Linked DNA regions of Homo sapiens: region 2 is linked to region 1. Evidence: fine-mapped expression QTL. Tissue or cell type: prefrontal cortex. Region 1 holds a variant in brackets; the other region holds the start of a gene. All regions are shown on one strand. Distances are between the middles of the regions.

Region 1 (8,235 bases):
GTTCATCCATGTCGTGGGATATATTAGTGCTTCATTTCACTTCTGATGGCAGGGTCCTGAATTAAGTCCTGCCCTGAGGATCACACTGTTACATCTAGGCCTTGTAGGATTCCTGAGAATTGCATCCCATCTGCCCTGCTCTAAAATCTACACAGCCTTTGCCATATCCATTTATCGATTTGGCTCAGCAACATCTACTAATGATGCTTAAATCCTGGGCAAGTGTATTTGAAGTGGCCCCAGAGGTTAAAGATCTGGATGTTCTCCCTCCAGCAACAGCACCACTGCCCCACAGCCTGGGGATTTTCTGTTCTGCTTGCTATTAATCACTTACTTATTGCATACTTATATGTGCCAAAAATGGGATCCTCTCTTGCCCTATTGTAAAGTGATACCCATCTTCTAGAAACCAATCCAGCAATATATGAGAAGAGCCATAGAAATGTGCCCCCTTGGGGAAAAGAAATAATCCTAAGTAGAGAAAAATGTATTTGAGCAAAGTCATTCATGGCCACATTCTGCCCTTCCGTGGCCAGAAATGGATAAAAGCTGAATCTACTGCCAGCAAGTATCACCTCCACTCATTCATGATGCAGAGCGTCCCCACCCTTCCCACTGGGTTGCCTTCCAGAAAACAGCTTCCATGATGCCCAGTAATCTCTGTTTCCCTTGATCTCTCTCATCTCCTTCCTTGTCTAACCTTCTTCTCTTAGAAAAGGAGCTTCATCCCCTTTGGTCAGTAGCCAGCAAATCTGGATTGCTCCCTGTGGCCCTTGTGCTCAAGGCAAATAGAACCACCTGCTCCACATCCTCCCATCTTCTGAGTGGAGGGGCCTTGAGATAATCCACTTCTCTGCTTAGAGTGGATTCTTGATGTATCACTCTAATGATTTATGAGGTTAAAAGGCTCCCTCCTCAGTAGGGGTGAGCTTAAAATGTTCCCTCCTCAGTAAGGATGAGCATAGAGAGGGAAAAGGAGCTGACAGAACCAGAGAATCCCATCCACCACATTTACGATAGTGAAAACATTAGAAGCCATCCAATGTTCCAAACACCTCTGGTACCAGCCAAGGGGGCTGACCCAAGGCAGGATCCCAGGAGCTAGGGTTGAGTGGGTGGGGGAGGCACTCCAGGCAACAAGGCATCAGATCTGAGGACAGGTGCCAGGCTCAGCCTGACAAGGTAGGCCAAGGGACAGTTCTAGAGAAGCAGCCAGGATAACCTGTTTTATTTTGTTTTTAATTGGGTGCAGACACAAGGGGAGTATGGAAAGCCATTGGCTCAGGTCTCAATGGGTCTCAAATTTAGACTTCTGCTATTTTTTTCTTCAAGTGCAATTGCATATTTAGTCTCAGAGAGTGACTCTGACAAGACCCAAAGAGAACATTTGTCATTTGGCCTTGACCTTGTCTCCACATCTGGAGAGTTGGTATCACGTGTGGTACCTTATTTGTACATTTCTTGGGGGTTCATAACAATGTTATACCACATTACTGGTGAAAGGAATATTAATTTGTTCAGTGTAAACACTGAAATAGCTGACAATCTTTTATTTTTAATTTTAATCTATTTATTTGTTTTGAGACTGGGTTAAGAGATTGGCTAATATTTGTATTTTGGGTAGAGGTGGGATTTTACCATGTTGCCAAGGTTGGTCCTGAACTCTTGGGCTCAAGAAATCCACCCCCCTTGGCCTCCCAAAGTGCTGGGATTACAGGTGTGAGCCACCACACCCAGCCTAAAATAGCTGACAATCTTTATAACCCTCTTTAGGCATATTTACATTTTATAGTATATTAGGAACCTCAAAAACTGATGGCAATTCAGGTTTTTCCAGTATTCAAGAAGGCATTATCTAAGCTGTCAGATCTAGGGGGGTGGTGAGTGTGATACATAAATTGGGAGGTAAATCAAAAAGTCTGGAGCAGGCAGAAGAATGCAGGAAGAGGTCAGGGAGTGAAGGACTGGATTGAGAGGGCCAAGATTTGGGGTTTGAACAGGGCTGACTTCAGGGAGCGGGAGTCTGGCCCCAGGTAAAACTTAGTGTCATTGTGTGGGTCAGAAGACAACAAAGGATCCTTAAGGAAACTATGGCCCATCATCTCAGTAGACCAGGCAGCCTTTGGGAATGATGGTCACAAAGACTCTGTGGCAACATAGAAAATGCTAATGGTGTCATACAGAATACAGAACTTTATGGACCTATGGTACAAACAAACACATGCATGTGCCTGCACACACACACACACACACACACACACACATACACAGAGGAAACAAGACTGGAAGGGGATACACCTAAATATAAGTAGTGCTTGTGTCCATGGGGTGGAGTGATATTGTGGGTTTATTTGCTCTGTATTTTTAAATAAAACAATGGCTCAACTCAGAAGATAACTGAGTCAGCGTCTCATCCAGCAGCCCCCGGGGCCCCTGGGAGAAGCCACCTCCCACCACCTGGCCAAGAAGATCTAGACAGGCTGAGAGGCTCCCTCTCCCTCTCCTGGGGTCCCGAGCCACAAATCTAAAGCCACATTCCTTGGGTGACCAGGCAGGGACTGGGGGCAGATGTCGAAACTGGCAAGGCCCCACTCTGTGGTACCCAGCCTGCTGTGGCTCCTGTCCTAGTGCCAGCTCCTCTGCTGTCATCCTGTCCCCACCCCACACATCCCCACCTCCCCAGCCAGTTGGGCCCAAGGTGCCCTCACTGATATGTTGGAGGAATAATCTGCTTCTCTCCAGCTCCTCAGGAGACCCGCGTGGGAGGTCCTGCGTCACGGGCTACTGAGGCACATGCTGAGTCCCCTCCCATGGGCCTCAGCACACCTACTATGGCTTAGCTCTTCCCACCCAGGACCTCCTCAGGGCTTCTCGGCATTCCAGAAAGACAAGAAGATTTTCTTGGGGCCAAGGCGTTGCTGGGCCTCTCTGTCCCGGCCAGGCCCTCGGCAAGCTCCATGCCTCGACTCTACTGCCTTCTCTCTGGTCCTCTCTGTCACCCTTCAGAGACTTTTAAATCCCATAGTCTGGGCTTCAGGGCCTCCAATAAAAGCAGAATAAGACCTATAAGGACTTAATAGAGCTTTTATCTATAAAAGAGACAGACCTTCTAATCTAACTAGAAACTAAGGTTAAAAAAAATGAAAAGAGTTAGACTTAAACTCTTAAAAAAATAAAAAAAGATTCAGCTCTGTCAGAGTCAGCCTGATGTGGTAGACAAATTGCTCATGAATTACTCACAGTGTTTGCTAAAAAATGCTGGTTCCTGGGAGTCTCTGAGCCTACTCTGGCTCTAGAGGCTGCCCAATTTAAAAAAAAGAAAAATGCAGGTTCCTGAGTCTAGCTCCAGAACTACCAAATCAAAATCTCGGGGAGGTGAGGACTGGGAATCTGAATGTGTAACACGTTCCCTACGTGATTCTGAAGCACACTGCACCGGTGGTTTAGTGGTTTCCATGCCAGGAGGGCATTGCGCCCTCCTTGAGAACCCTGCCTTCCCAGCACTAGCTGCTGGGAGGCTGGCCAGCACAGACACAGTCCTCCTTCCCAAGAGATTCCTAGCCCTGGCGAGGAGGAAGACTCGGTGGGTAACAGGAGTTGCAATGTGGGTTTGTACCCAGTTCTTGGGGAGCACAGAGGAGAGGGGAGTTCTCAGAGAGGGAAGATGTCTCAGGGAATGAGTCTCTGGGGCCAGATCCTGAGGGCTCAGTAGCATTGACTAGCTAAAGAAGAGAGCAGAGGTATCCCAAATTGAGGACATAGCATGGGCAGAGGCACAATGGGGAGCTGTAAACAGTTTAGGGCCTGGGCACAGGTAGGGAGTAGAGGGGAGGAGGCCAGAGAGATGAGTGGGGCTGGTCTTCCTGCTGGTTTGTGTTTTGTCCATTTGGCTAATCTGGGAATAATACTTCCCAGAAACCCCTTCTCCAGAGGGGTCTAGGGTAGAGTTGGTCAAAAGAGGAGCTTGCATGAGATTTGGAAAATAAAAGTGAAGCAGCATCCTGACTCTCAGGGGGTTGTCACGGTCATGTGCCGTGATGACACTGAGGCAGAGATATGCCTGGCCAATCCACCTCTCGGGCTGCTGGCTCCCTGTCTGGCCCGTGTTCTGGCCAGCTGGGCTTGCTGAGCTACAGCTGCC[T/C]GCAGACCTGTCCACCGGCTCCCTTCACGGCCTCACTCAGGCAGCTGATGTGCTTGCTTCTTGGGCTTCCCTGCAAACTCTGACTTGTCACCCGTATTAGGCCATTCTTGCATTGCTATAAAGAAATATCTGAGACCAGGTGCGGTGGCTCATGCCTCTGATCCCAGCAGTTTGGGAGCCCAAGGCAGGAGGATCACTTAAGCCTAGGAAGAGGAAGTTGCAGTGAGCCAAGATTGCACCACTACACTCCAGCCTGGGCAACAGAGGAAAACTCTGTCTCAAAATTAAAAAATTTAAAAGAAGGAAGGAAGGAAGGCTGACTGACCTGAGTCTGGGTAATTTATAAAGAAAAGAGGTTTAATTGGCTTGTGGTCCTGCAGGCGGTACAGGAAGCATGGTGCTGGGCATCTGCTGGGTTTCTGGGGAGGCCTCAGGAAGCTTCCAATCATGTCAAAAGGTGAAGGGGGAAGCCAGCACCTCACATGGAGAGGGGGAGCAAGGGAGATAATGGGGGAGAGGAGGGAAGTGCTACACGCCTTTTTTTTTCTTAGACAGGGTCTTACTCTGTCACCCAGGCTGGGGTGCAGTGGTGCAACCACAGCTCACTGCAGCCTCAAACTCCCAGGCTCAGGTGATCCTCCCACCTCAGTCTGCCTAGTAGCTGGGACTACAGGTGCACACCACCATTCCTGGCTAATTTTTTTTTTTTTGTATTTTTTGCCATGTTGACCAGGCTGGTCTTGAACTCCTGGGCTAAAGTGATCCACCTGACTCAGCCTCCTAAAGTATTGGAATTACAAGCATGAGCCACCATGCCCAGCCAGGAGTCCCTTTTTGTTCTTTTTTTAAATTTTATTTTAGACAGAGTTTCACTCTTGTTGCCCCGGCTGGAGGGTAGTGGAGCGATCTCGGCTCACCGCAACCTCTGCCTCCTGGGTTCAAGCAATTCTCCTGCCTCAGCCTCCCGAGTAGCTGGGATTACAGGCATGTGCCACCATGCCCGGCTAATTTTGTATTTTTATTAGAGACAGGGTTTCTCCATGTTGGTCAGGCTGGTCTCGAATTCCTGACCTCAGGTGATCCACCTGCCTCGGCCTCCCAAACTGCTTGGATTACAGGCATGAGCCACCATGCCTGGCAGGAGTCCCTTTTTAAGAGCAGGAAAAATATTTTCCATAAGCAACTCCTCCAACACACACACACACACACACACACACACACACACACACACACACTCAGAGTCCCTCCATGGCTCATCGGGGTAGACCTTTTAATATCCAGGGCTGGAGAAGGACAATCCCTTCACACTTGAACGCTGTGAAGTCTGTGCCCTTGTCCAGGGCACCTGCCAGGAGGAGTAGGCAGTGGGTCCGGTCTTTCAGTGGAGGGCTTCTGCAGCTTCAGATCGTCTCTAGGAGTCTGGAGGTCTATCTTATGGCTTGTATTTCTGGAACCGAGTCATGCCTGCTTGAAGATAAGAAGATCAAACAACAGGATGCTGTGGCTTCTCCTATCCCAGGGGCCTCGAGGACAAATCAGTTCCCTTCCTGGGGGAGCAGATCCTCCTGGCTGGGATCTTCAGTCCAAGTTGGTTCAATTTATATCCTTCACGTCTGGCTTCTCCTGCATGTCCAAGTCACAGGAATTTTAAGTCAGGATCTTCTCTGCACCCCTGAGCATGACAGCCAGCCTCTGCCCTCATGAAGCTCCCAGTCTAAGGGAAGAAATAATAAATTGGTGGCCGGGCATAGTGGCTCATGCCTATAATCCCAGCACTTTGGGAGGCCAAGGTGGGCAGATCACTTGAGGTCGGGAGTTCGAGACCAGCCTGGACAACATGGTGAAACCCCATCTCTACTAACAATACAAAAATTAGCCAGGCGTGGTGGCATGTGCCTGTAGTCCCAGCTACTCAGGAGGCTGAGGCAGGAGAATCGCTGGAACCTGGGAGGCAGAGGTTGCAGTGAGCCAAGATCATGCCACTGCCCTCCAGCCTGGGTGACAGAGCAAGACTCTGAGATTATTATCTCAAAATAATAATAATAATAAAATAATAATAATAAATTGGCAGTTAGAGGGCACTTCGCCAAGGCAATATGAGGGAAACTACAATCTGTCAGGAAAACACAGGGGAAGGCCCTAACTGGCCCAGGAGGTTCAGCGGGGCATCCAGGAGGATGTATGAGAGCCGAGGAGGGAGTAGAAGGTGATGTAGGAAAACCACTTAGCTGAAAGACTCGCTGCCCAAAGGCCGGAGGTGGGAGAGAGTGCGGGACTTGCAGGAACTAAGAGGAGCCCAGAGAGGCATCTGAGAAGAGAAGGGCTTGGAGAGCTGGGAGCATCAGATCGGGTTTAGCCTGGGGGCCTGGCTGAGGTGAGTGCTCTCCATCCTAAGGCCACAGGAAGCAGAGGAGGGACAGGATCAGATTCTGCGCCCAGAGGAAGACTGGCTTAGAGGAGGTGAGTCCAGAGGCCAGGAGAATATCAGAGGCCAGGACAAGGGAGACGGCGGCCAAACCAGGGAAGTGGCACTGGAGAGAAATGGATGGATTCAAGAGACGTTAGGCAAATGGACAGAAAACAGAAACCGCGCACGTGGTGGTTGGTGAGTTGAATGCATGCAGGAGATAGGGGCCCAAGGGAGAACCATAGGGGGTTGATTCCAAGGGTCTGGTGGAGCCCCTGAGGGGTTGGAGACACCCAGCTGGTCAGCCACACAGTCTGGTATTAAATGACACACGGCTGGTCAGCCACACAGAAGCTGGGCCAGTGTGAATGGGTCCGGTACCGACTTCAGAGTGTGCACCTCTGTCTCCCCAGACAGCAACAGAAGGACCAGGGAAATTTAAAAGGGAGTCTATGATGATATTGTAATATAAAATCTCTAATGAAGATGTGACTACTAGAAAAAAGGGAAATAAAGCGATTGAGGAAAGGAAAACAACTTGTGCATAAAGAAGAAAAGAATAAGCAACTGAAAGCTCAAAACATTTTTCCAGGCCTGGGGGATGAGGTGGAGAGAGTCTCTTGCTCCCACTCCAGGAGGAGGGCTGCCTGGAACTAAAGTTGGTGCTTATGATCTGGTATTTAAATGACATTCTTAGTGGTGGTGTTAGCGGTAGCAGAGCAATTGTGCCAGGGCCCACCGACCCCTTGCTGGTTCACTCAGTTGCCAACATATACTGATATACTGAGCACCTGCTGCAGGCCAGGCTCTGTGATCTCAGATCTCAAGAACAAGCCAGCTCAGTCCCTGTCTAATAGAGCTTACAACTGGGCAGCGGAGGCAGACCTGCCATGAGACAAATATAAAATGACAACTTGTGACAAGGGTTAGGAAAAAGAATAGTGGAATCCTGTTTTAGATGGGATGGTCAGGGAAGGCCTCTGAGGAGGTGATATTTGAGCCGACATCAGATGGATGGCAGAGAATGCAAGAAGAGTGTCCCTGGCAGAGGGAACAGCATCGTCATAATTGGGAGCTGGTGCTTTCGAGGAACTAACAGACAGGCAGGGTGGGTGGAGGGTGGGAGCCAGGGCTGGGCTGGGGGTTGTGAGGACACTGACAAGAGACCAGTTGGAGAGGGGGCGGGGGCTGACCATGCAGGAATTGGAATCTTTCAGTAAAGTCCAGACCAAATGATTCTTCAGGGTCCTTGTTCCCCCAGGTTTCAATGACACTTTAAAGGTGTTGTCGTAAAAGGCTGGGGAGTCTGTTTCTATGCCCCCAATCTCATTTAAGAAGGGGGGCATCCAGGCCATCATGGAACAGGTGACCTGGAAGATGTTCCTTGGTCCAGTTTCTGCAAACTGCCCCGCAGCATTTTTAGAAAATGTTCCCTTTTAGATTCGATTTATCTTAGCCAAATTGACCAGGGAAAATAGGTGCCTACAAATAGCGATCACTGGCAAACAAGGAGAGTTATTATCTTAAATTAAGGCTGGTTTCTAACAACAAAAAAAAACCCACCAAATGCCACTGGCCACCCCCCACCAACCCCGATCCCCAGCGCATACGTGAGGACGATGGCTCCACCACCCTCCCTGTAAGTACCAGGCTCAATGCCGGGCTCTGTGCAAAGGGAAGGAAACAG
Region 2 (6,339 bases), 90 kb after region 1:
ATAGGAGGGCTCACAATGTGTTTGCTAAATCAATGGATGGCCACTCCATTTTACAAGTGAGGAAACAGAGGCAGAGGAGAGATCCTCGTCTGTTTGCAGAAGAGGCTCGTCGGAGGTCATTTGGGGAAAGTTGGAAATAGAGAATGCCAGCTGTGGGATCCTCTGGAGCCAATCTCAATTCTCTGGGCTTCCACCACTTCTGAGCATCTCATAAACAACGCTGTCCCTTTGCTCGGTAAATCAATGCTGAACCAGGACCAAAGTGATAGCAGTCTGTCTGCTGGGGAGAGGAATGCCCTGTGCTTCCTCAACATTCAGAGCAGGCATTGTCACACGTTTTCTATAAGGGGCCACATGTAAATATTTGAGGCCAGCCACACAGTCTCTGTCACAACGACTCAACTCTGCCATCGCACTATAAAGGCAGCCACAGCCAATCTGTAAGTGAATGGGCCTGGTTGTGCTCCAAAAAAGCTTTATTTTAAAAAATAAGCTGTGGGCTGGTTTTGGCCCTTGGGCTGTAGTTTGTCCATTTCTGGCTTAAAGCATGATCAGGGTCACCCTGTACAATTGTGCAGGTTATTAACTACACAAAGGGTGTTGGCCACAGTTGAGAGGGGCTGTATCCACCTAGAGAAAGGGGTGCCCTGCACACAGAGGCACCACAGGGATGAGCAGCAGCGCAGGCAAAGCTGCCGTCACTCACTCTGAAGACTTCGGGGAGGATCTTGTCCAGTGTTCTGGGTGGGGGTGAGAGGCAGGGGAAGAGTGGGTTAGAGAGGGGCAGGCAGCAGCACCTACCAGGGGTTCCTTGTTCTTCACCAAGCGGACGATCTTCACCGATTCCTCATCAAAATCCTCATCGATATTGTCAGGCAGAGGCGGGAGAACGGGGTCAAAATTCTTCTGGGCAACCGTGTCATGTACCATGAGCACAGCCTGCCGGGAAAGCCAGAGAAAAGGAAGGCTGGCCCGCCGCTCACAGGGTCAGCAGGCCGCAGCTGGCCGGTGGTATGGAGGGTGGCAGACGCCATGCCAGAGAGACAACTGCCCAGACACTAGTGCTGAGGATCGCTCCCTCAGTCTCCACTCCTCAGCCTCATTAGGAGAGCTCCCTCCGCCCCCATCCCAGGAGACCCAGAGGCATGGCTGGGCAGGGGCTCTGTGTGACTACCCTCAGGTGCGGGGTGGACAGCAGCTGGAGCAGCTCCCTCTCATCACTGTGCACGGAGGCGGCCTGCAACTCCTCCATCACCTGCAGAGAATGAGACAGGCGCCACTGATGGCTAGAGGTGCCCCTGCCCCATATCTGCTGGGTCCTTCCTCTTTGGAAGGGCCCACCCAGCTGCAGCCCCCAGGGGCACACCAGACCCTCAACCACCCGACGACGATGATCCTGGGAACATCACACCAGGGGTCAGGAGCAGCTCTATGGGGCCATCCTCCAAGGAGCCACCGTTTTAAGCCCTACGTGCTTTCTGCTTTATGTGGATCTTCTCACTGAACCCTCGCAACCAACTTGATGCAGAGGGTCTTGTTACTTTGCCATTTTACAGATGAGAATCCTGAGACTCAAAGAGATTAAACATTTTGCCCGAAGTCACAGAGCTCATATACAGCACAGCTAGGATTTGAACCTGGGCTTATCTGGCTCTCAGATGCTATTTTATGAATGAGGAAATGGGAGCTCAGAGAGGTTGAGTGGCCTACTTAACATCACAGAGCTGGTGGGACAGGCAGCGCTGAGCCTGGGAGCCAGGCAATCTAATGTGCCCCTAATCACATTCCACAGTGGAGAAGGGCCCAGGGCTCTGCACCCACAAGCTGCACTCATCCCTCCCCAGGCCATCTCCTGGGGTTAGGTGAGTTTATTCAGGAACTGATCTTAGTAATCAACCAGAATGGGTTTTCCCCAACCACGCAACATAGACGACTAGGTCCACAAGAAATTAAGAAGCGTTCCTTTAAAAAATGAGAAGCCTGAGCCAGTATGCGGGGACACACTGTAGGTCCCTTGACTTCAGGAAAGCACAGACATAATGTCTTATTGACCTATTCAAATCACCAGTCCTCAGGGCAGTTTGGGAACTGCTGAGCCAATCCAATGCTCTCATTTACAGCAGAGGAAGCAGACTTGCTAAAGAACACACAGTAAGTGGGCAGCTCCATGTCACAGTGTCTCCCAGCCCAGTCCAAGGCTCACGGGTTCCTCCCTACCTTTCGGGGAACCCAGAGAGAGGAAGAGAAGGAGGAGGACAAGGGAAGAAAACACCTCTTCACCTTTGGGCTCCTGATTCCCGGTGTCCCCACACTAAGCAAGCGAGGCAAGATGAAGGAGCCCTACAGGGTGGGGAGTGGGGCAGACACTGTAAGGAGAAACCTGGGGCTTACGTCCTCAGCGAGGGCCACAGCGCTGTGCAGAACTGGGGTTGGACTTTGCCTTTCATAATAGCGAAGCTTCTCATGAATCTGCAAAGACAGAGTATTTCAGATGCACCCTGGACACCACACATCCCACCCACGGCTGTGGGGACATTTGGGGCAGCAGACTGGGCCACTGACAGGGCACCATAAGAGAAAGTCCTGTGTAGTGGGCAAGTGAAGGCCTTCCTGGGGCAGGGAGATGACTAGGATGACCTCAGACGGCCACAGACAGCTAGAAAGACCTCTAGACACCCTTCCACGCAGGATGACGTGGGACTTCACCTTCATTAAGTAACTGAGGCTTTTTTCACTGAAAACATCCCTCAGGAAGCCCATCTCCTCCTTGTGGTTGGAGTCAGGTCTGAGCTGGGAGGTCAGCAGGGCCAGGGTTTCATGCAAACCTGGGGAGAGGTGAGAAAAACAAAGGATAGCAAACGCAGTGGGTGCTCCCTGCCCCCGAGGAGCCCGAGTGGGGCCTCAAACAGCACTTCAGTCCTGCCGTGAGGACATTCTCTCCCCAGGCTCTCACTGCCAGGGCCTGGAGGCTGCCAGGCAGGCTCTTGTCTTCAGGACTGTGGCAGGTCCAGCCGGGGGGAGGTACTTACCAGAGTCCTCCGATAGCACTGGCATGCTGGCGTTGTCACCTCCCGACCTCTCCCTGCAGATTCTGGGAGAAGGGGGTGGAGGTGGGTATTGAAGCTCCATCAAGCATATTTATTGAACAAACTGACTACACATCTACTGTGTTCTCTGAGACCAGGCTGTGGACAGAGAGGATGGGAACAAATAACTCTGCTTACTTTTTTCAGAGAGGAAGGAAATAAAGCTAAGATGTGCTGAGTGTCCTCGATGTGCCAAGCATTGTGTGGGGTGATTTCTATGATAAACTTTTTGTCTGCACAAAGTCCTGAGAAATGACTGCGAATGTTCCCATTTTATTGATGAAGAAACAGCGGCGTGGAAGCTTTCAGTAAGCTGTGGGTCAAAATCCATATTCAAGCAGGCTCTTCCAGGCTGGCCTTGGAGGTGCCAAGTGACCCTGCCTGACAGTGTCAGCTGTCCTCCGCAGCGCGCCCCCTCCACTGCAACCTTCTAAGAGCCCTGGCTCAAGTCTCCTGCTGGGACACACCTTCCACAACTACCTGGCTGGGCCTACAAGCCCCCTGTCCCCGACCCCCCAAGACCCAACCCAAAGGGAGCCTCCAGACTGGAGTGCAGAGAGGAGGGGGGGAAATGGGAGTCGGGCTTCCACTATGCAGGAGGGGGGACCCCTATCTCATGAGGCCCTCCAAAGGTGCTCTGCAGCACGTGGACCTCAAAAAGTCCTCCTTAGGAAGAGGAGAAGGAGAGTCATGACTGATTCATTCCGCAAACATGGAGCCAGCCCGCAGCGCCGAGCCCCGGTGCCACTAAGAGGCGTAAGAGCGGCCCCGGGCCCTCCAGCCTCCGCCCCGCCCCGCCCCGCCACGCCACGCCGGACTCACCCTCGGGCTGCTCCCCGCAGGAGGCCGAGCACCGACTCCCGCTCGCTCTCCGAAGGAACCTGTGGGAGAACAAGGAGCGCACTGGGCGCAGGAGCAGCGACCCCGGGGGACCTCGGAGGGCGGTCCCGGAGGACGCGGAGCAGCAGGGAGCGGGGGGCGCGCGGCGGGGCGGGCGCGGGAAGAGGGAGGCGGGGGCCGAGGGGCGGGGTTGAGACTCCCGCGGTGGGCTCGGTGGGCCGCGAGGCTGTCCGGGAGCACGGGAGGAGGGTCTCGGCCCGGCCTCCCGCCCCTCCCGCCGCGGCGCCCAGCTCCCTCGTCCGTTCCCCTCGCGGCCTCCTACCTCGTCGCGCCGGGATGTGTGCTCCGCGAACGGGAGCCGCGCGAGTGCCCAGAGCCTGGGCCGCCGCTGGCTCCGCCTTCCCGGACCCCTCCCTGCGGCTGCCGCGCCGGGCGGGGGTGGCGGAGCCTGAGGAGGCGCGGCGCGGGGAGGAGGCGCGGCGCGGGGAGGAGGCGGGGGAGGAGCGGAGGCCGCCCTCCGCGTCTGGCACCGCCGCACCCTCCGGGCCGGGCTCCGCTAGCCGGCGTCGTACCCGCTCCCGCTCTCCCGCTCCCTGAGTCCCCTGCCTGTGTCCCCCCGCACCCTGGCACACAGCCAGACTTCCCTTCCGCCCGCGCAACCCACCCTCCGCGAGTGGAGGGGTGGACACCTGCTCAACAGAGAATTCGATTTTGCAAACATTTATTGAGCGCCCTCCAGGTGCCAGGCGCTGTGCCAGGGGCCGGGGCTTCAAAGACGACCAAGGCACAGATCCTGGGTTTGAAGATCTCCAGAGGTGGGGCGGGGGGCCGGTCGGATGCGAGGGCAACTCGCTGTAACAATGCAACGCGCTGGGAAAGATTTATCGGTGCACGCTGCCCTGGGGACGCGGAGCAGGGGAGGAGAAGTCAGGCTGGAGAGGAGGGGGACTCCATTCTGCCCGGCTGCAGGGGAGTGAGGCTACATAGCAGAGGCGAGCAGCATCCAGGGGCTTTACTGGAAAAAGAGCTCTGAAATGGCCATGACGATAACTGACTTATATTGTGCTGTCTCCATGCCCAGGTACTCCTCAGATCACTTCCCTTCACAGTAGTTCCTGATATCAAGACCATTCTTATTTTGGTTCTGCAATTGAGGAAACTGAGGTTCCTGGTGAAAGAATGTGTATAGGGGAGAGCATAGGAACTGCTGGGTGAGTGAGCAGGTGGTTGTGGGTATTAAAAGGTGAGGAGTGGGTGAGTGAGTGGGCCCCCTTCCCTCAATCCCAGCAGCAAAGAACGGCACAGCACATGTCAGGAGAGGTGGACCCAGAGGTTAAGTCTGGAAGTAAATCTAGCCCTGCACAGTAACCAGGGAAAATGGGTTGGCAGGCCCCACAGGCTGTAGTGCATGGGGAGGCTGTGAGAGGCAGCAAATGTCATGATGATGTTTCCCCTCATTCCTCAAAAATTATCCTCATTCCTCAAGAAATATCTACACTATTGCTCCTCAAAATGTAACGTGCCTGAGACTCACTAGGGGGTTGTGTAATGCTGGAGTGGTGCCAGATTCTGAATTTCTGACAAGCTCCCAGGTGATGTGACGCCACTGGTCTGCAGACCACACTTTTTGAGTGGAGAGAGACTGCATGAGACACATTCTTAGCTGCAATGTTTACTGTTGGAAAAATAATGAGAACCATCTGATCCATCTGATATGGGTCAAATGATTTTGGACAAGAACACCAGGAAGTGGTGTTGGAACAAGTAGATATTTATGTGCCTGAAGGGACCCAATCCCTACCTCACACCATATTCAAAACGCAATTTAAGAGAGATCATTGGCCTAAACATAAAGCAAATCGATAAAGCTACTAGAATAAAACAGGAGGGTATCTTTTAAATCTTGGGGTATGCAAAGATTTCCTAGAAAGGATACAAAAAAGCCAGGCATGGTGGCATGAGCCTGTATCCCACATACTCAGGAGGCTGAGGCAGGCAAATTGCTTGAGCCCAAGAGTTCAAGGCTGCAGTGAACTATGATCAGTCCACTGCGCTTCAGCTTGGGTGACAAAGAGACACCGTTTCTAAAAAAAGAAAAAATTTTTAAAAAAAGCATGGACCCTGAAAACAATTGATAAATGGACCTCATCAAAATTTAAAACTCCTGCTCATCAAAAAACACTATTGGCCAGGTGCAGTGGCTCATGCCTGTAATCCCAGCACTTTGGGAAGCCAAGGTGGGTGGATCATCTGAGGTCAGGATATTGAGACCATCCTGGCTAACACAGTGAAACCCCATCTCTACTAAAAATACAAAAAATTAGCCAGGCATGGTGGCACACACCTGTGTCCGTTCCAGCTACTCAGGAGGCTGAGGCAGGAGAATTGCTTGAACCCGGGAGGCAGAGGTTGC

Direction of the effects. Positions count from the first base shown, and alleles are read on the strand shown. Sizes are in standard deviations (SD) of each study's normalised expression.
For the expression in prefrontal cortex of the gene that starts at base 4,294 in region 2, allele T in region 1 goes with a higher level than allele C (large effect, 0.88 SD a copy in GTEx).

What was found. PIP is the estimated chance that this variant, and not a neighbour inherited with it, causes the effect.
Region 2: MPP3 starts here. The variant in region 1 is fine-mapped to the expression of MPP3 in prefrontal cortex (GTEx, PIP 0.99).

Annotation. Positions count from the first base shown.
Region 1 is chr17:43,737,492-43,745,726 of GRCh38, forward strand. No RefSeq gene overlaps it. Among named protein-coding and RNA genes, the nearest start is that of SOST, 17 kb to the right of the region's middle. RefSeq lists a silencer at 6,473-6,632. The variant T/C (reference allele first, on the strand shown) is at 4,142.
Region 2 is chr17:43,828,853-43,835,191 of GRCh38, forward strand. MPP3 (MAGUK p55 scaffold protein 3) reads right to left here and starts at 4,294. Exons shown (of 20, transcript NM_001932.6): 1 at 4,249-4,294; 2 at 3,909-3,967; 3 at 3,030-3,091; 4 at 2,707-2,825; 5 at 2,392-2,469; 6 at 1,175-1,255; 7 at 802-939. The coding sequence starts at 3,054. LOC107984979 (a long non-coding RNA gene) reads left to right here and starts at 4,853. Exons shown (of 3, transcript XR_001753057.2): 1 at 4,853-5,137. RefSeq lists silencers at 4,254-4,303, 4,324-4,423.